Linked DNA regions of Homo sapiens: all the other regions are reported to be linked to region 3. Evidence: microRNA targets listed by miRTarBase, many of them from high-throughput screens and not tested one by one. Region 3 holds a microRNA gene; each other region holds the end of a gene's coding sequence.

What was found. The annotated mature microRNA hsa-miR-4302 reads CCAGUGUGGCUCAGCGAG and lies in region 3 at 1,760-1,777, shown strand. An mRNA with a match to its seed (bases 2 to 7 or 8) in the 3' UTR can be bound and repressed. Matches are read on the target gene's strand: a 7mer-m8 pairs with bases 2 to 8, a 7mer-A1 pairs with bases 2 to 7 and ends in A, and an 8mer does both.
Region 1: miRTarBase lists CFAP418 as a target of hsa-miR-4302. The part of its 3' UTR that is shown has no 7-base or 8-base seed match.
Region 2: miRTarBase lists SHMT1 as a target of hsa-miR-4302. Seed matches in the 3' UTR shown: 7mer-m8 at 4,394-4,400.
Region 4: the mRNA of CHCHD4 is a reported target of hsa-miR-4302. Seed matches in the 3' UTR shown: 7mer-A1 at 795-801 and 7mer-m8 at 1,306-1,312.

Annotation. Positions count from the first base shown.
Region 1 is chr8:95,243,300-95,248,451 of GRCh38, forward strand. CFAP418 (cilia and flagella associated protein 418) reads right to left here. Exons shown (of 6, transcript NM_177965.4): 6 at 1,614-4,471. The coding sequence ends at 4,318. Among named protein-coding and RNA genes, the nearest start is that of CFAP418-AS1, 23 kb to the right of the region's middle.
Region 2 is chr17:18,323,942-18,329,093 of GRCh38, forward strand. SHMT1 (serine hydroxymethyltransferase 1) reads right to left here. Exons shown (of 12, transcript NM_004169.5): 12 at 3,932-4,978. The coding sequence ends at 4,809. SMCR8 (SMCR8-C9orf72 complex subunit) reads left to right here. Exons shown (of 2, transcript NM_144775.3): 2 at 1-4,115. Among named protein-coding and RNA genes, the nearest start is that of SMCR8, 11 kb to the left of the region's middle. RefSeq lists a silencer at 1,783-1,892.
Region 3 is chr12:25,870,677-25,875,828 of GRCh38, reverse strand. MIR4302 (microRNA 4302) reads left to right here and starts at 1,750; the gene lies at 1,750-1,809.
Region 4 is chr3:14,108,362-14,113,513 of GRCh38, reverse strand. It overlaps CHCHD4 (coiled-coil-helix-coiled-coil-helix domain containing 4), which reads left to right. Exons shown (of 3, transcript NM_001098502.2): 3 at 320-1,437. The coding sequence ends at 627. Among named protein-coding and RNA genes, the nearest start is that of CHCHD4, 14 kb to the left of the region's middle.

The sequences.
Region 1 (5,152 bases), not on the chromosome of region 3:
AGGATTATAAATCATTCTACTATAAAGACACATGCACACGTATGTTTACTGCAGTACTATTCACAATAACAAAGACTGGGAACCAACCCAAATGCCCATTAATGATAGACTGGATAAAGAAAATGTGGCACATATACACCATGGAATACTATGCAGCCATAAAAAAGGATGAGTTCATGTCCTTTGCAGGGACATGGATGAAGCTGGAAACCATCTCAGCAAACTAACACAAGAACAGAAAACCAAACACTGCATGTTCTCACTCATAAGTGGGAGTTGAACAATGAGAACACATGGACACAGGGAGGGGAACATTACACACCAGAGGCTGGTTGGGGGCTAGGGGGCTAGGGGAGGGATAGCATTAGGAGAAATACCTAACATAGATGACAGGTTGATGGGTGCAGCAAACCACCCTGGCACGTGTATAATTATTTAACAAACCTGCACGTAACCTGCACGTTCTGCACATGTATCCCAGTACTTAAAGTATAATAATAACAAAAGAATGAGAACATTTATTAAGCACCTATTCTGAACCAAACACTATGCTAGTCACTTTTCATGTGTTATATGATTTAATCCTTACAACAAACTTACAAAAGTGGTATTATAATTCATACAGTTAAGGCGAACGAAGCCCAAAATGTCATGTGACTTTCTAAGGGACACGACTCTGAACTCTGACTTTGTTAAACTTCATTTGGTCATCCCTTATCTCAAGGCATTTGGGGAAAGTCAAATTTAATTATCATGTACTTGTATATATACATATCTAATGCAATCTTTTTTCTTTTTTGGTTTTTCTAGTGCATTCTTAAAATAGGGCACAAAATGATGTCACAAACCCAATGAAATACAATAAGATATGAAATCTCTAAAGAGATTGCGTATTTTAAATTTTTTCTTTCAGGAACTATTTTATACAAGAGATATTGCTGATTACTGGGAGCATTAGGTTGGCTGATAGAGATTTTGTTAAAACATTAGAAATATCAGCATTTGAAATTCATGGCTAAGCTTCATCACAATGCTTTTGGATACAAAGACCTTTTTCTTTCATATTCTTAAATATCAGTAAGAAAAAGAGAGAAAGCAATTCAGATTCATAGTCTGATGACATATTCTCTGGCCTAAGAAAAAAAGGTACTAAGTTTACTGACATCAACGAACAGGTTCTAGGTATACACCGCCAAGTCAGCATGGCCTGTTCTTCCTAAACTTGGACCTGTTCCTTTGAATACCCATGGTACTTTACACATGCATGCACACACATACTCTCTTTACACATGCATGTACACACACACACACACACACACACACACACACACACACACATCAGAGTTATGGCATACTTCTCCTCCCCAGTGTAGACAAATTATCTGTTTAACTGGATGCTTGGAAACTTTTCTGTTGACATTAAAAAAATTTTTTTTGACTGGGCATGGTGCTTCACACCTGTAATCCCAGCACTTTGGGAGGCTGAGGTGGGAGGATCGCTTTAGCTCAGGAGTTCAAGGAAGCAGTGAGCTATGATTGCACCACTGCACTCTAGTCTGGGCAACAGAGAGAGACTCTGTCTCAAAAAAAAAAAACATCAAAATGATTTCAAATTAATGTCCATCCAAATGAATATTTTACTATAAAATAAAAGAAGTAAATAATACAGAGTAATTATTTATTACTTATTCATTTCTAGGCAGGATGAGGGTCTGAGAGTATAATACAGTTCAAATAAAGAAGTTACCTGGCTTAAAAATAGCTACTTGCTAAAGATAGAAAATTATTATAAATCTTAAAAACAAACAGGCAAAACATCTTGAAAGTTTTATAGGCTTTGCATTTTAAAATTATAGATGATTAGAAACTATACTTTTCTTCTATACTGATACTAAAATAGTTTCATTTTCAGCTTAAATTACAACAGTTAATAATTTATCTGACTGTATATAAACATAATATTCTTTCTACATTTTAGTTTAAAATAGTACAATATTAAAAAGCTTATAAATTGCCAATAAACATGGGAACTCACACATACATTTCTGACATTGGGGGATTATTATAATTATTATGTTATGGAATGCCAAACATAGGCAATGTATGTAAGTTTTAGGATAGTTATAATGAAATAATAAAAGGGAAAAAAAAACCAGGACAACTTTGTCCCTTCAAAGTAGAGGCAATGTAGGCTACTTTGGGAGGCTGAGGCGGGCGGATCACGAGTTCAGGAGATCGACATCATTCTGGCCAACATGGTGAAACCCTGTCTCTATTAAAAATACAAAAATTAGCTGGGCGTGGTGGTGTGTGCCTGTAATCCCAGCTACTGGGGAGGCTGAGGCAGGACAATCACTTGAAGCTGCGAGGCGGAGGTTGCAGTGAGCAGAGATCGTGCCACTGCACTCCAGCCCGGCAACAGAGTGACACTCCATCTCAAAAAAAAAATTTTTTTTTTCAAATTAGTGATTTAGTAAATTTGCTTACTGGAATAAAAAAGAAAGAATTGCACCATTATGAATAATGTGTCAAATTCTATGAGGTTCTAAATGTGTGGATCTTGTTGCTCTGCTATTTTTTTCCAGCAGTCGACTTCAATCGACATCCCCCTAGGTTTCTGACTCAATTACATATAGATATAACTTTAGGGATATAATACATTTTTATTAAAAGATAAAATCTGTCATAATGTCTTTTTTTTTTTTTTGAGACAGAGTCTCACTGTGTTGTCCAGGCTGGAGCGCAGTGGCGCGACCTTGGCTCACTACAACCTCTGCCTCCCAGGTTCAATAAATTTTCCTGCCTCGGCCTCCCGAGTAGTTGGGATTACAGGCATGCACCACCGCGCCCAGCTAATTTTTGTATTTTTAGTAGAGATGGTGTTTTATCATGTTGGCCAGGCTGGTCTTGAACTCCTGACCTCAGCTGATCTGCCTGCCTCAGCCTCCCAAAGTGCTGGGATTACAGGCGTGAGCTACCATGCTTAGTCTGTCATAATATCCTTAATACAAAAGTGTGAGGATTGGCCATTATAAGATCTATTCTGTTGCAATGCTAGACTTACTACAATAAATTTTACAAGTATGTAAATGTGTCATGGCTAGGAAAAGGATTCTAATGATCAGATCTTCCTCCCTTCAGTAGGGTGGCTGGAATAAATTTAGCATAAGACTAAGAAGATTATAACTTTGTTTCAATTATTCCCTTTCAGGGTGCTCTGTATCACACATTTGAACTATATAGTACATATGTAGCAGGGAGTTTGTGGCAGATTGGAAAGCTCCCAAAATCTCTCAATGGGGTTGGGAGCTAGAAATTTTGAGGGACCTGATTTCCTGAATGTGCTGCTATTGTAGGGCTCCTCAGATCTCAGTGATGTCAGGAAGGAGCCCAACAGGTTACCTGTTGGTTCAGTTATGCTTTACTTGTCTTTTCACTTACTCACCTAATAAACGATATGTCAACCTGATCCTACCAGAGAAGTCCACAGGCTGCCTGAAAAATTATATTACTTGCTGTTTACTTCCCTTGATGGAGTTTTAGGCATTAAAGGATAGAAAGTACTTGGAAAATCCAACAATAACCTGTATGTATTAGGATTTTTGTGATTTTGGGTGCATCAAACTCTTTTTATATATTATTGGGTAATCAAAATAGAAAATAACTTTTGATAGTTAAATGAACAAAAGAGGGAAAAATAAGCTAAAACTGGTAACATGTATTTAATATTGTGCATAACATTGCTTTGAGTTGATGAGGTAAGATCAGCTATGAGGCAGTGTTTTTGCAAAATACCTGTAACTACTTCTGAACACCCTTCAGTCAGCCACTGATCACCTGGTTTCTGCCATGTCCAAATTATGATCTTTGGCAACAAAAGATCTGACTGGAAGAAGTGTTGTAGACACCCCTAAATGATCTCTTTGCCCTGGCCGGCTTTATCCACTTTAACTGCTACAAGTTGGGGAATGATTTGCTAAACGTATTAGCAATCAATATTGCAGTTGCTAATGAAAAACTAGATATTTGTATGGAACTCCATAATCAAACCTCTATTAAACAGAAGACAGATTAGTAAAGAATGTAGATGCCTGTTACTAAGTGAAACATCCATGTATCAGGAATAATTCCAAAGTGTTATAATACATGATCTTCCTTAGTCCATTTGGTCTTCAAAAATGTATGTAGTTGTATCAATAAAATTCACTGCCTTTTCCCACAGGGAATGGTATTGCTAGGGACTATTGTCTAAACATGATGATGATTCATGGAGACCACTCTCATGGATGCATCTGTCCGAATGTGCAGTCTGCATTCTTAATGTTTACCACAAACCCAGCGAAGCTGATGATCTGTCTGAAGGTCAGTCACTTCTTCAATAGTTCTCCAGCTACACTGGCAGGCATATGCCCGTGTTCCTTTCTTCTTTATCAACTTTGCTTTTAATTTGTGAAATTCTGGCATGTTGTTCCTATTAGTAAAACAGGAAAGTTTTAGCATAGTGGCTTTGTTCAGTGCTTAATGATTAAAAAAAAAAAAAAAGGTCATTGCTTTCTTTTCTTTTCTTTTTTTGTTTTTAGGAGTCTCATTGTTACTCAGGCTGGATTGCGGTGGCACAATCATGGCTCACTGCAGCCTTGACCTCCCAGGCTTCCCCTCAGCCTTCCAAGTAGCTGAGACCACAGGCATGTGCCACTATGCCCGGCTTAAAAAATTTTTTTTTGTAGAGATGAGGTCTCAGTATGTTGTCCAGGTTGATCTCAAACTCCTGGGCTCAAGTGATCCATCCACCTCAGCCTCCCAAAGTGCTGAGATTGCAGGCATGAACCATGGTGCCCAGCCTATTTTCTTATCTTCCCCGTATCTGAACACTAAACAACCTAGATCCCCTCACACTAACACTAGAAGATATGCTTCAGTGTTCTCTTTCTGATGGTATTTCTTTGATAATCTGTACTTTTTATGGCAATCCTCTAGGCCAGTTTATTGAATGTTGAAGAACACAATAACCTAAAGGCTGAAGAATTACAAACGCCCTATCAGAGATGAAATAATATGAAAATAGGGTGGAAAGGATGGTGGTTCATTTCCTACCTCAGATACTCACCTATGCCATATTTTAAAAGCCTGTAATATGGCAAGTTGAGAGAAC
Region 2 (5,152 bases), not on the chromosome of region 3:
CTCCTGGGTGGCCCACTGGCTCCTGCCGGCCAGAGCGCATGAGCACTGACCTTCCTCGTGGGGAAGGTCTGCAGACCCGTGTGAACATGGCAGAGGCCACACTCCAGCTCCCACCCACATAAACCTTTGCAACCACTTCACTACCTCTCACTGGGTCTCGTGGGCTTGGGACAGCAACGGTTCTGTTTAGTCAGCTGGTGCAGGTGGTTGGCCCAGCCGATGAGAACTCAAATAGCACGGATTTCCTGGATGAGCTACCACGTGGCGCTCTTCAGGTTCTGCCTCTGGGAGGCTGTGTGCACCTCAGTCACCACAGCTCACGGCCGTCCCCAGTTGAGTCCCCCTTCTGAGGACAAGTTTGAAACTGGGAAGGAGACACCCCCTGGTTCCGCCAGCACCTATCCCACTGATAGTGATCCCCTGGCCTCCCCGAGCCTCCTTAGGCAATGGCCACTGGTTTGTAGACAGAGAGTTTCTTGCAGCCTTGAAAATTTTATTCCCTAAGTGGGGACAGCTCTGGTATTACTGCTTCTTTAATTTGTTCCACAAAAATTATGCTGAAATGGACCTGAATCAGCCCTGGGTGTGCTTCTGTTGGCGCCTGCTGCTGAGGCCCGGCCTGCCCATCGGCCTGTAGTACGCCATCGAGGTCATCATGGAGCCAGCCAGCTTCTCTTCTCATCAAGGAGGCAGAGACCCCTGGTGGAAGCCAAGAGTGACCGAAGAGGGCTTGCATCACGTCACTCCAGTGGTTCCCTCCTTGTCCAAGTCCTCGTTTTAAGGGCATGGCCCGTTGGCTCCAGCCGTTGGCTTCTGTTCAGGGTCCTTGCTCCCATCAGAGGTGTTTGATTTTGCTCCTGGGGCTGCGATGGAGAACCTTTTGTGGCAGATGGTGCTGCCTACATCTCATTGGTTCTCTGTACCTGTGCCCGTTGCGCATGTTCACAGACAGGAGAGTCGCCAGCAATACCTTGGCAGCCTTTAAATGTGAAACGTCTGTTACTTGCGCTGGAGGCAGAGGCTGTGCAGGGAGCCTGCTTCTAATCGTGGGCTCCCTTATCTGTTACGGTTCCCTCCCCTCCTGTTCTAGATGCTGATTCGTTTTCTCACTGGCTGGTTAATTGCTGTCTACTTAGGCCTCCAAGGCCATAACTGTGCAACATTTTATCTGAGAAGGAAGGAAGGTCAGAAAGTGATCACTGGCACCACCACTGTGGCATTCCTGTCACACCAACACAGAAATTCACAGCTCATACTGTTCTCACCTGGGAAACTTGGGAAGGGCTGATGAGTTTGGGGCAGATCCTGAATTGCAGCCACACTTGGCCTTCTAGAAGCTGAAGTTGTGCCCTCAAGTGGTCCTAAGTAGAAGTCCACTTGAGGTATTTGCTGGCACACACCCTCAAGGGTGGTTCAGAAGGTCCTGAAACCTAAGGCAAAAGGCTGCTGGGGCATGAACAGAACAGACCGTCTCAGGGGCAGCCATGTAAGTGGCAAGCAGGGCTGGTCTCCCTCAAGGTGGTTCTTCATTAAGTAAAGATGGCTTCGTGACTAGTGTTTAGCTCCCAGATTTATATTTGGGTTAAAAACTAACTTTTCAATGTGGCAGTTTCAAAGGATTACTTGATGCAAAGTATGTTTCCTTTCAAAGGGATCTTGACGTGGTACCAGGACTGAGTCATGATTTGGGCAGAGGCAGTTAACACTGGGAAGCCCTGCCCCTCCCTATGCCCCCTTCACTCCGGGGAACTGAAACCTACTCTGAGTCTCACATCTCTAAACCTCAGTGCTGAGACCTATGCAGTGGGACTAATCTCATCAAGAATTTTCAGTTGAGGCCGGGCGCAGTGGCTCACGCCTGTAATCCCAACACTTTGGGAGGCCGAGGTGGGCGGATCACCTGAGGTCAGGAGTTGGAGACCAGCCTGGCCAACATGGTGAAACCCCATCTCTACTAAAAATACAAAGAAAGTTAGCCAGGTCTGGTGGTGCGTGCCTGTAATCCCACTTACTCGGGAGGCTGAGGCAGGAGAATCACTTGAACCCAGGAGGCAGAGGTTACAGTGAGCCGAGATCGCGCCACTGCACTCCACCCTGGGCAACAAGAGCGAAAACTGTCTCAAAAAAAAAAAATTTTTCATTTGAGGTATTCTTCCAGTAGAAGGTTAGTAAGTTTTTAATGAAACCATTAAAAATTACACTTCCCAGAAAATAGATGACATCAGTGCCCCTTGCTACTTTCTCAGTCCTCACTATTGCTTTGAGGGCCCAGGTACTGAAACTGGTTGTCTTGAGTTTTGTGTCAGCTTTTTCTCCAGTCCATTATCCCCCTCCCTTGCTTCTGAAGCAGTCTAGGTTAAACTAGCCAGGCAGGTAGTTGTGGACTGGTGATTTTCAAAAGCCCCACTTTAGAGATCAGGCCACAGCTTTTTATATCGCACAGGACACATCAGCCTGAGCTGCTGCCTCATGCCTGTTTCCCCAGGAACCTCACTCCTTTGGTAGAACCTTGGGATTTTAGAAATTGTGGCTTTTCCATAACTCATTTACTCCAACAGTTGAAGTTACACACATTGCTCCCAAATTTGGAAATAGACCACAGTACCTTACCTTTCATTCCCCATCTGGCCTTTACCTTCTTTGCTTCAGTGGTTGAAAACAGTTGCCATATTCAAAGTATAGTAGATTTCAACCTCACACAAATGACAAGTCCCATTTTACAATCCTAGGAAGGCCCACCAATTTCATTTCACGCGCCAGGGCGGCTGCAGTTGGAGGCCGAGGGCAGCCCTCTGCTCACTGAATGTCTTGCATGTGCTGACTGCTGCCCGCAGTGCTGAACATGCCCCACCGCCCAGGCCCAGCACTGCTTGTTGGGTCAGCATCTAGTGCTGCTGTCACATCTTTGTCTGCACAGCCAGTAGGATTGCCTCAGCCAGGGGGTTTATCAGAAGGTGTGCAAGGCCTTTGGGGGAACTGAGCCCCTATAGTGGGCAGTCTCCTTTACCTTCCCACCTCCCTGAAAAGCACAGAAGACAGTGCCTTGGTTTGTGTTTTGAAGCAAACAAGTCAGCTTTCTGGCTTTGCCCCAAAACTGTGATGGAACATAATAAAACTGGAGATATGGTTTTTAACACTGCAAAAAGGAAAAAGCATCAAGTTTCTACTTCTGGCTGGAAAGCAAAACCAATCTCAGCTGACAAGGCTGGGCAAACTAAGTTTTCCTGAGCCCATTTTCCTTTGAGCCCTGACCTAGCCTGGCCTTACCTCATTAAGGTTTGGTTAAAGCAGTGGAAAGGAGGAGGAGGCAGGGGTGGATGGGGGTGTGGGGAGGGGATGAGCACTCTGCAGCCGATTAATCTGTTGGTAGGGGCCCAGCTTCTTGGGAGTGCTTATTCAGCCCAAGAGTGGAGGCTGTTTACAGCGAGCCCTGGAGATGGCAGCTTGTCTCCAGCTGGGGAGGGGTCAGGCCCCTAAATTGAAGACCACTTTGGTAGCAGAACTGTAGGGACTGGTGAGTCAACTCACAGATTCTGCAGCAGCTGCTCCACCCACAATAAAGCAAACGCCGACAGGCTAGACCCCAGATTGCAGGGGCTGCCACCTACAAGGTGGGACCACAGGCTGCCTCACCGGGATTGTCTGCCACTAAATAGCTGGAGTCACAGATTGAGATAAATGCCACCTTCAAGGTTGCAGTGAAAAGCATAATCCTATGTGATGAATTTATATGTGTTATTTTTTAAAAAGCTATTTTATTACTGCATGTTCCCGTCCCGTCTTGTGAATGTGAGTCCCCGCCACCACGTGAGGTGCAGTCGTTGCAGCGGCTGGTGCAGGAGTGCAGCTGGCGCGTGTGTGATAGCATCTCGTAGGTGTTGCTGCACAAGAGTTAACCAGAGTCAATGCCAAACACATAGTATGAGAAGTGTACTTTTTAAGAAATTAATTTATTTGAGTTCAAATATTTTTGAAATATAAAAATTGGTTGTATTTTTTAAAGCTATAATTCTTGTAGACATTCTGTGGTTAAAAATTTGATTGTGCTTATTAAAAATGGTCATCTATGTTTTGCACTTCAGCTACGTGAAAATAAAATTTCTTTGGGAAGGTGACATTTGGCTTCCTGATTACGGGAGGGAGTTGGTTATCTCAGGTGGAGCAGGAAAGCCTGGTTGATTCTCACACCAGGATGGGACTGGGACTTCCCAGGATGGAGGGAGGAGGCCATTTCTACACCATACTTTGAGCTACTGACAGCAAAACCCTCCCACCATACTGGGTGCATCTTGTTTACTCTTGACTAACATACACTTCTGATTTACAGCAGAAGCCTCAGAAGCTAATTCAGTTCTCCTTTGGCATGCCACTGGATAACAAGATAGTGAGGGGGCAGTGTGTACAAGCTGTGGACATGGGCATTTCCTCTCTGTTGCAGCAAGGCGGAGGAAAGCCCAGGGAGAGTAAAACGCTACAATCTTTCTAACAGCTTTGCCCTACACCACCATCTAAATGATTATGACCAAGTGGCGACATAGTATTTTATTTTCCTAGAATTATGTCCAGCTGTGAGAAAGCCAGGTTCAAATTTAAATCCTTTAATAACCTGTCCCAGAATTACTAACAATGAGACTTAAACAAATTTTGATTTGTGAAGAAAACATGAAAAAAGTCCAAAAGAAACCCCCTCAAAGGGCCCGAGTGTCAACAGTTCCCCTTTGGAGCAGCTCATCCATCTCTCAGGTGGGGGTCCTCCGGCAGGCAGCTTCCTCTGTGGCGCCAGGTGGGTCCAGAGTGGGCCCGCTCCTTTAGAAGTCAGGCAGGCCAGGCAGAGGGAAGAGAGAGGCGAAGCTCTCAACCTCCTCCCGGAGAGCCTGCACGGCCGCCTGGTACTTATCCCCTGCCAGTCTCTCCTTGAACTCTTTCAGGGTGGCTCTGACACCAGTGTCGCTCTGGATCTGCAGGGTCAGCTCTATCCCTGTGCCACAAGACACAAATGAGTCACCCCACACTACACACCAAAGGGGGTACAATGGCTGGGGGCCGAGGCACAAATGTCAGAATGTCCCCCAGCTGGGGAGTGTGGCAGGGCACAAGGTCTCCATGCTTACCTCAATTACTCTGAGATGCACCCACCCTTGGACAGATGTCC
Region 3 (5,152 bases):
GAATTCCTTTTGAAAGTCTATTGCAGGCTGATTTCATAAGAGAAGCAACCTAGTTCAGCAGGATTGAAATCTCCTATTCCCTGTCTATCCAAATCAGTTTCTTTAAGAAGAGGGTACATTTGTGTAGCCTCAGGTGGACCAGAATAAAGGAGGATTGTTAATAAATAAAGTTGTATTTGGAAGACCCTTTACCCTATCAGTTTTGGTACAAGGCTTAGAGAACAACATTGCCTATTGTTTGGTGACTGAGCCTCCGAAGTCACCTCTTGAGTGCTTTCTGTCTTGCTGCTCCTGCTCTTCTTCAGATTCTCTGCAGAAAGTTTCTGAGTCAGTGCAAGTGCCTCTTCAATATGAATCTTAAGTTTATTGCTGAAGTTAATTTCACCTCCATTAGACTGTGCATTTTTCTGGGGAGGGACTGCTTCTGCTGTTTCCTTTACAACTCTCCTAATAGCAAGACATGTGCTTGTGACCTGAACGTGGTGAGCATTACTGTTTGCCATCAAAATGTTAAGGTCACTGCTGTATGGTTATTCATAAGAAGTGAAGAGCTGAAAATAAGGTTGTTTGGAAGCATGAGTTGAAGCCAAATTATGGAAGGCCTTACCTGCCAGGCTGGTTTGGACTCGACGAGTGTTTGTGAGCAGGGTGAGGGGTGTTAGGAGCTGTGCTGGAGGAGGCCAGTCAGGATGGGCAGTGAGCAATTGCTGAAATTTAAACAAAAATCAAAGGCCATACATATAAATGGACTATAAATATCACTGAATGGATATCAGTGAAGGGAAGCACGAATTGATGAAGTCTGAAGGAGGAAGTGAGATTTGAAGAATGAGAAGAAAATAATCCAGCCGAAAGGGAAAGGGAGAACGTTCTAGTTAGCTAGAAACAATAACAGAATTTCAGCATCTGAAATATTTTTGACAAAGGATTCATTTCTTCCCCACCAGACTTATTAATTCTTTCCTTCCTCGTCTCCTTCCCTCGTTCCTTCCTTCTCTCTCTTCCTACTCCTTTTCTTCCTTCTTCTTCAACAAACACTGCCAACAAATCCTAAATTTTATTTTCGCTGGTTACAATCACTTCACATTTTTTTCCTGGTGTCTTCATTTGAAATTGCCTTACTTTTGACTATTCCTCCTGAAAAATACATGATCAGACCTTGAAATGGGTGAGGCAGAGAAGTTTAAGAATTTCTTCCTTGAGATTTTTTTCTCAGATAAATATGCACAGTATGACTGGATTTTTGAAGACAACTTTGTGTTTTGTGATATCCCTGGACTCCCACCCCAGAGGCTGACAATGCTTTTAGGCCCCTCTTTGTAAGATTTATGCCGATGAGTGCCCAAGTTTCTAGAAATGTGACATGGCCAGGTATTGCCAGAGAGAAGCACGTTACCTGCTTCCATGGTTATGGTATTTTCCCTCTTGTCCGACCCTCCTCCCTCCTGTGTGTGTGTGTGAGGCTGGGGATGAAGGGGTAGCAGTTTGGTGAAGGTGGGATCCATAGGGACCAGAGTTGGGAGTCTACTGAGGCATCATTTATCAAAAGTATTAGCATATAAGGCCAGAGGACAGATTCTGTTGTGTGCCGGAGTCTAAATTTAGTCACCAAGGAAAATGCTCCACAAAGAGAAAGAGTTTGCTAAGAACCAAAAAAAGTGGGGATGTTGGCATCAGGAGAGCAGAGCTCTAAGCATGGTGGATACTGATGAGGAATTCTGAAACTGTGATGCAGATCCTGGGGTCACTTCAGGAGGGACCAGTGTGGCTCAGCGAGGTGGCTGAGTTTACTTAAGGTATTGGAATGAGGTAGAATTACTATTTCTATTCCCAAATCACCAAAGTCATGAAGCTTAAAAAAAGCATCTCTTCCAAATACCTCATTTTTCATTTGCAAAAAAAGGGAGAGAAAATACTCCTTGTTTTGTAACTCATTATAACTCATCAACTTCTCTAACTCTTTAATCAGCTTTATTCCAGGAGGAAGAGAATTGATTGAACTGTATGATTTCAAAAACGTGTTATGGGAAAATGAAGATATATAGCTTTATGGTTTATTTTATTTTTTCCACAAATCCAGGTCTCTAAGCTTTATGGTTTAAAGTTCTGTCTCTGGAGTCAGACAAACCTGGATCTGAATCTTTGTCTGATATTTATTAGCTTTGTAAATTTAAATTAAGTGGGCATAACATTTGTAAGCCTCTATTTCATAATCTATAAAAAGAGGATAACAGGCTGGTCATGGTGGCTCATGTCTGTAATCCTAGCAGTCTGGAAGACTGACGTGGTGGATCGCTTAAGTCCAGGAGTTTGAGACCAGCGTGGGCAACATCACAAAACCCTGTCTCTACAAAAAATAGAAAAATTAGACTAGTATGTTGGCACACGCCTGTAGTCCCAGTTACTCAAAAGGCTGAGGTGGGAGGATCACTTGAGCCCAGGAGGCGGAGGTTGCAATGAGCTGAGATTGCACCACTGCACTCCAGCCTGGGTGACAGAGCCAGACCCTATAACAACAGCAACAACAAAAGGAGGATAACAATAGCACTTATCTCTTAGGATTATTGGGATAATTCAATGAGGACTGAACATAAAGTGCTTGGAACCATGCCTGACATACAGTAGATACTCAATAATATTAGCTATTGTTACCATTATGATTATTTTAAATCTAATTTTTTGTCTCTCAGATTATTTGATATCTAATTGCCTCAACTATGTCTTTAAAATAGAGAAATTGGTTGAAGAATCATCTGTGCTCCCAAACTTCTTTTTGTCTTCCAATCTAACATTTGGTACAAATTGTATAAATGAGAACACTTGGAATTCAATATAATAGAACAAAGTATATTTTCTAAGTGGTCTATTGTTGGATCTGGTTCCAGATTCCACTTTATAGAGATAGAAATACTATCCTTAAATGCATATATAGAGTCCAAAATCTTCAAAATCAATATGCTGAAGTCAACCATCCAATAAGTTAGTAACAGTTTTACCTTAGCAGATGCTGTGTGAAAAATGAGAAAGAAATGCAAAATTGAGTACTAGTCTTGGGACTCCTCTTATCAAGTAAAAGAGGTAGAAGATAAAGACAGAGAAGACTAGAAGAAAACTCGCAAATGAATATAGACAGATGAAACAGACTAATTTGCTATTAACCAAAGTAATAAAAGGAAAAGTGCTTTGTTATTTTTGTTTTAAAATTTTTATTTTTGGTTAAAATGTTCCTACTCACTATGGTAATTTTAGATGGAATACAAAAGTGTAAAGAGAAAGAACCATTATAAGTAGTTTGGCATATTTGCTCTCAGAATTACTTCTATGCATATACTTTACACATAGCTGAACATATACAGATAAATAATTTTGCTTTCATCTTTTTTGCTTAGTATTGTCACATAATAATTTACCTCTGTTGTTAAAATTTTTTGTCCTTATTTTGTATTGACACTTTTTTTTTAACAGTTGTGGTAAGATATTACTCACATACAACCAGTTCACCCAGTTACAGTAGACAATTAAGTTATTTTTACTATATTTACAGGGTTGTGTAATCATTACCAAAACCAATTTTAGAACATTTTCATCACTCCAAGAAGAAACCCCTTACCCACTAAAAATCACTCCCCATTCCTCTTATCTCCCCTCAACATTCCCCCCACCCCACCTCAGGCAATCATTAATCTACTTTTGTTTTCTTTTTTTGAGACAGGGTCTCACTCTGTTACCCATGTTGAAGTGTGTGATCTTGGCTCATTGCAACCTCTGCCACCCAGGCTCAAGCAATTCTCCCACCTCAGCCTCCTGAGTAGCTGGGACCACAGATCAGTGCCAGCACACCTGAGTAGCTGGGACCACAGGTCAGGGCCACCACACCTGAGTAGCTGGGACCACAGGTCAGTGCCATCACACCTGGCTAATTATTCGCGTTTTTTGTAGAGATGGGGTTTCGTCATGTTGCCCAGGTTGGTCTCAAACTCCCAAGCTCAGGAGACCCATCCGCCTCGGCCTCCCAAAGTGCTGGAATTACAGGCGTGGGTCACCATGCCTGTCCTAATCTACTTTTTATCTCTATAGATTTGTCTTTTCTGGAGATTTCGTGTTAGGGGAATTATTCGATATGCGATCTTTTCTTTTTTTTTTTTAATTTTATTATTATTATACTTTAAGTTTTAGGGTACATGTGCACAACCTGCAGGTTAGTTACATATGTATACATGTGCCATGTTGGTGTGCTGCACGCATTAACTCGTCATTTAACATTAGGTATATCTCCTGATGCTATCCCTCCCCCCTCCCCCCACCCCGCAACAGGCCCGGGTGTGTGATGTTCCCCTTCCTGTGTCCATGTGTTCTCGTTGTTCAATTCCCACCTATGAGTGAGAACATGCGGTGTTTGGTTTTTTGTCCTTGCGATAGCTTGCTGAGAATGATGGTTTCCAGCTTCATCCATGTCCCTACAAAGGACATGAACTCATCATTTTTTATGGCTGGATATGCGATCTTTTCTGACTGGCTTCTTTCACTCAGCATCATATTTTTCAAGACTTGTCCATGTGTAGCATGTATCAGCTCTTCAAGTTCCTTTGTGTTTTCGTATAATATTTCACTGTTTGGATATACTGCATTTTATTTACCATTCATCAATCGATGGACATTTGGGTTGTTTCTGCCTTTTTTTTTTTTTTTTTTTTTGAGACAGAGTCTCACTCTGTCGCCCAGGCTGCAGCGCAATGGCGCGATCTCGGCTCACTGCAGCCTCTCCCCTCCCACCCACCAAGGTTCAAGTGATTCTGCTGCCTCAGCCTCCAGAGTAGCTGGGATTACAGGCGCCTGCCACCACACCTGGCTTATTTATTTGTTTGTTTGTTTGTTTGTTTGTTTGAGACGGAGTTTAGCTCTAGTTGCCCAGGCTGGAGTGCAATGGCACAATCTTGGCTCACTGCAACCTCCTGCCTCCCCGGTTCAAGCGATTCTCCCGCCTCAGCCTCCCGAGTAGCTGGAATTACAGGCATGCACCACCATACCCGGCTAATTTTGTTTTGAAATTGGGTTATTTGGCCGGGCACAGTCAAATACCACGCCTGTAATACCAGCACTTTGGGAGGCCGAGGCAGGCGGATCACCTGAGGTCAGGAGTTTGAAACCAGCC
Region 4 (5,152 bases), not on the chromosome of region 3:
TAACCATCCAAGTGATCTCCTCTTCTTTGGGCTAAATGGGTCCCGGTATTTAATTCTTGGAGCACAGCCTCAGAGCACTGAGAGGTGGCTTAGAATAAATTAGTGTCACACGTGGAGAAATATGTCATTGGTGGCTTCTCTCCCAGGTGGGCCAAGGAATGCTGGATATGTGCTAGGCTTTAAACCTAATCCAAATCGAGGTGTGGGTCCATAGGCAACAATAGTTCCTGTTCTGCACCCCCTCAGTAGCCTGTGAGGACTGGACTAGTTTTGTATTTTCTGAAACTTTAGAGAACATCTCTCTATCTTCCTGTTCTAGGATTGATACTGCCAAATGGAAACATTAACTGGAACTGCCCATGCCTTGGGGGAATGGCCAGCGGTCCCTGTGGAGAACAGTTTAAGTCAGCCTTTTCCTGCTTCCACTATAGCACGGAGGAGATCAAGGGGTCAGACTGTGTAGACCAGTTCCGGGCCATGCAGGAATGCATGCAGAAATACCCAGACCTCTATCCCCAAGAGGATGAGGATGAGGAAGAGGAAAGAGAGAAGAAGCCAGCAGAACAAGCAGAAGAAACAGCTCCCATTGAGGCCACTGCAACCAAAGAAGAGGAGGGATCAAGTTAATGAAGGCCACAAGGCACTGGGCACCAGTCCTTTTGGAGTGGACCTTTTGCAAAAGGCCTTGTCATCACCTTCCAAGAAAGTTTCCTTCTGTTGTCCTGTGCATTATAATATACAAAATAACTTATTTTGATGATCAGAGGTCTTGAGGTCTTGACATCTTGACATATACACTGAAAAAAATGGGGGTTGTATGTATGTGTGTCCTACCCAAACCTGTGGCCGCCACTTTTGAATTCTCAGATTGCCCTGAATTTTGCCACTTTTAAATAATGTGCTGAATAAGCTCAGCAACTAAAAACCATTACCCAAGAACGTTTCTTGTGAGTGAGCTGATTTATTCTGATTCATTATATTCCTTTTGGTAGATTTTATACCCCTTGGGGAAATAATACAACAAAAACATCTCTTAAAAATGCTGGGATGGGGCCATATCTACTAGCAGAGGCCAGATGGTCAGATATGATTTCTGCAAACCCATCTTGACCTTGAGTATGTGAAGGGGTACTGTACTTTATTCCTGATACATTTTGGTTTCCATGTAGGTGTTGAGCTCCTGGTTTTCTGTGTTTGGATGATGAAGATTTGGACCCTTCCATTCATAATCCCTTTCTAAGTGAAGGGAGAGGCTGGCTTGGCTGTTCCTTGTTATTCCGAAAGCCCTGGTTTGGGGCCCATGTTCACACTGGCTCTCAGTCTAGTCAGGTGCAATGTTCTTGAGAGGTGGGGACCTAATTATTACCAGAGTAGCAGCAAGAGAGGAAACGTTGTGAATTAAGTATTCAATTAAAAGGAAACATGATTTCTACCTGATTTTGAATGTGTCCTTTGTTTTCACTAGTTAAAAATGTTTTCTATATAAAAAAGTATAAATTATGAACAATTCAATTGAAATTCCTCTTGAAAGATATTGGTAAACCAATTTGAGTCCGTTAAAATTTTCTGTGTTGAGTTCAAAGGAAGCTTACTTATTTTATATGTGAGCAGATGCCTTCACACAGACATTACAGTTAGTCTATGAGGTGGGGAAGGCTCTTCCTGTTTGAAAATAGATTAACTTGCCTAAGGTAACTGCTAGACAGTTTTCAGGCTGTGGCATAGTAATGCCTCATTTGTCTCAAATGTGTTAAGTTATTTATGTAAAAAATTGCCTTAAAACTTAATAGCTTGAAACGAGGAATCTGGGCATGGCTTACCTGGGTTCTCTGGCTCAGTGTCTCATGAGGCTATGATACTTGTAGTCATCTCAAGGTGGGACAGGCCTTTCAAGATCGCTCGAAGTGGTTTCTGGGAGGGTTCAGTGGGTTGAATCTTGTGGGCTGTGGATTGAGGGCCTCAGTGCCTTACTGGCTGTTGGCCAGACACCTCCTTCAGTTCCTTGCCACATGGCCTTTGCCTTAAAGGGTCAGCTCACAACATGGGAGGTGGCTTCCATCAGAGCAAGCGAGAGAGCAAGATGGATGCCAGAGCCTTTTCATCACCTAATCTCAAAACGGACATTCCATAACTTTACCATAGTCTATTTGTTTGTTAGAAGTGAGACACAGCCCACACTCAAGGAGAGGGACACAAGAATACGAGTAACAGGAAGCTGCCTGCCACACTGGAGAATGAGGCGCCACCATGTTAAAGCTTGAAGGCATGGTTAAAATGCAAGGATTTGTGGTTGGGAGGTGTATGGAGGTAGAGAACTGCTTTCTATATCCAGAGCTTTTTTAAACCTTGCTTGATTAGGAGCTAAGAACCTGGAGCTGGCCAAGCATGGAAGGCATGACAGACCCTAACGACTTCTTTTAACAGAGTTTTGCACATTTAAAAACGATATTTCTTTTGTTAAAATTTTGGTCACAATCAAGGTGTTACTGTTTTGTGACCATGTCATGTACCCCATTTATTTGATGCATTCATGGAATCTACAGTTCCAAGCCCTAGGGACATAGAGTGATTCATTCATGGTACTGCCCATGAAGCTACAATCTAGCCAGGAAGTCAACATTTACTAGAAAGCAGAAAGGAATGGATGAGTGTTACATAATGGTGCTGGATTTTCAGGGCTGGGTTCTTCCAGCCATGGTAACTTACAGCAGAGATTCTCGAACTGTCTGCCCAACTCGACTTGGGTTAGGCAAAAGGTTCCATCCTTTTCCACTTATCACTGGAAAAACAAATTGGTGATAAGGAATTGGCACCGTATAAGCAATTGGAAGTGGGTGGAGATTATGCTTTACTACAAGGGGTTTGGATAATTCATATTTAAGTTGCTGTGTATCTTTAAATGTAAGAACACCAATAGATCAAAGAGTTAATGATTCAGATAAATGCAAGTTGATGATTTTTAAAGAACAGCAATAATTGAAACAAAGGGCTGCTCAAAATAACACTGATTTGGAAATGCAATTACCAACACAATGTTTTATGTCTGTTTTGTTTTGTTGTGTTGTGTTTTAAGAGAGTTTCGCTGTGTTGTCCAGGCTGGAGTGCAGTGGCATAATCATGGCTCACTGCAGGCTCAACCTCCTGGGCTCAAGCGATCCTCCTGCCTTAGCCTACCAAAGCGCTGGAATGCTCAGCCTGTTTTGTATTTTTGTGTTATAGGCAAGTGCAGCATATCAGCCAAGCTTCTTAATAGAACACTACATTCTAGTCCTTAGTTCTAGGACTGTACAGATTTTAACATGTATTTATTTTAGAAACAGGGTCTCGCTCTGTTGCCTAGGCTGGAGTGCAGTGGCACAATCATAGCTCACTGCAGCCCTGGACTCCTGGGCTCAAACGATTCTCCCACCTCAGCCTCCCAAGTAGCTGAGACTATAGGCGTGCTCCACCATGACTGGCTAAGTTTTTATTTTTGTAGAGATGGGGTCTCACTATGTTGCCCAGGCTAGTCTCAAACTTCCGGCCTCAAGCAATTCTCCTGCCTCAGCCTCCCAAAACACTGGGATTACAGGTGTAAGCCATCATGCCCAGCAGAGACTCATTTTCACATAACGGCTGCTTTCTTGTAGTTTTGAGACATTATGGGTTACTAAAATATTATGAAGTTAAAATCTGAAGTCTGATATAAAATGGCATAGTAATTGCACATGAACAGGCTGGCTACAGCTAAAAGCAGCTCTTAGATTTTCATAGTGGAGCCAGAAAAGCAGAAATTTCATTCCTTGCCTTTTTCATGAAATAACTAGCCCAAGGTTATATTGTTAATGGATATATCTCAGGAAAATGCGAGCATTGAACACTTAATATATCGAATACTATTAAATTTTCAGTTATGGTAATGCCACTGTGATTATGTTTAAAAAGGAAAATCCCTACATTTGATAGAAATATATTGACTTTTGTTGATGAAGTTATATTACTAATGGGATTTGTTTCAACATAAGATGGAGAAGTCGTAGGTGTAGAAAAAAGAAGATTGGCCATAAGTTCATGACTTTTGAAGCAGGGTAATGAATGCAAAGCTAATATTATACTATCCTTTCTGTTTTTGTGTGTATTTCAAGTTTTTCTATAATAAAAAGTTTAAACCTTGGAAAAAGATACCATAAACAGGGTAAAAAACAGTTGCAAACCCAGAGAAGGTATTTGTAGCACATATGATTGGCAAAAGATTAATATATAGAATATCTAATGGACTCCTAATAATAAAACTACACATAAGCCAATAGGAAAATGGGCAAAAGACATGAACAGACTATTCACAGAAAATGAAACAAGAATGTCTAACGTTCATTTGGAAATATATTTATCCTCATTATTCATCAAGGAAATACAAAATAGAAAATAAAACAAGTTACAATTTCAAACTTACCAAATTGAGGAAAATGAAAAACGTTGATCACAGTGTTGGCTAAGAGGAAAACTCTTACACATTGCTGGTATGGGAGGTAAATTTATAAAACTATTTGGAAAACAATTTAGCATAAATGAATGTAAATAAACACAGGCATAATTTAGAAACAAGCAAATTCTGTGGTATGGACCATAGAGAAAATATGGCACATATGACCAGGAAATATCTTTTTTTTAAAAAAAAAAAGTCCCCAAAACATTTATTCACCAAACTTCCTAACTCAATTTTAAGCAAAATGTAACAATGAATTAATAATCTGTGCAAGTGCTGACAGGCATGCAGACTGGTGTGACCTCTATGGAAGGGATTTTGAGACTATCTAACAACAACTACAGATGCGCATTTACCTTTTGAGTAGGTAAGCCCACTGCTCGGAATTTACCCTGAATCCACATCTCCACAAATAAAAAACAAGATATGCACAAGGTTATTCATTGCAGCATTAGATGTAATAATACAAGACTGCAAACATCCTAAATGCCTATCTACAGGAGACTGGTTGAATAACCACGGTACATTACACAATTGAGTACTATGTAGCCATAAACAAGAATAAACATCTCCATGAACTAATATAAACCAACTTGCAGGCAATGTTAAGTGAAAAAGTAGATATGGTATGTCCACTCAACAGGCCTACAAGTTACAGCACTCAGTAAAATTAAGTATGCCTATAGT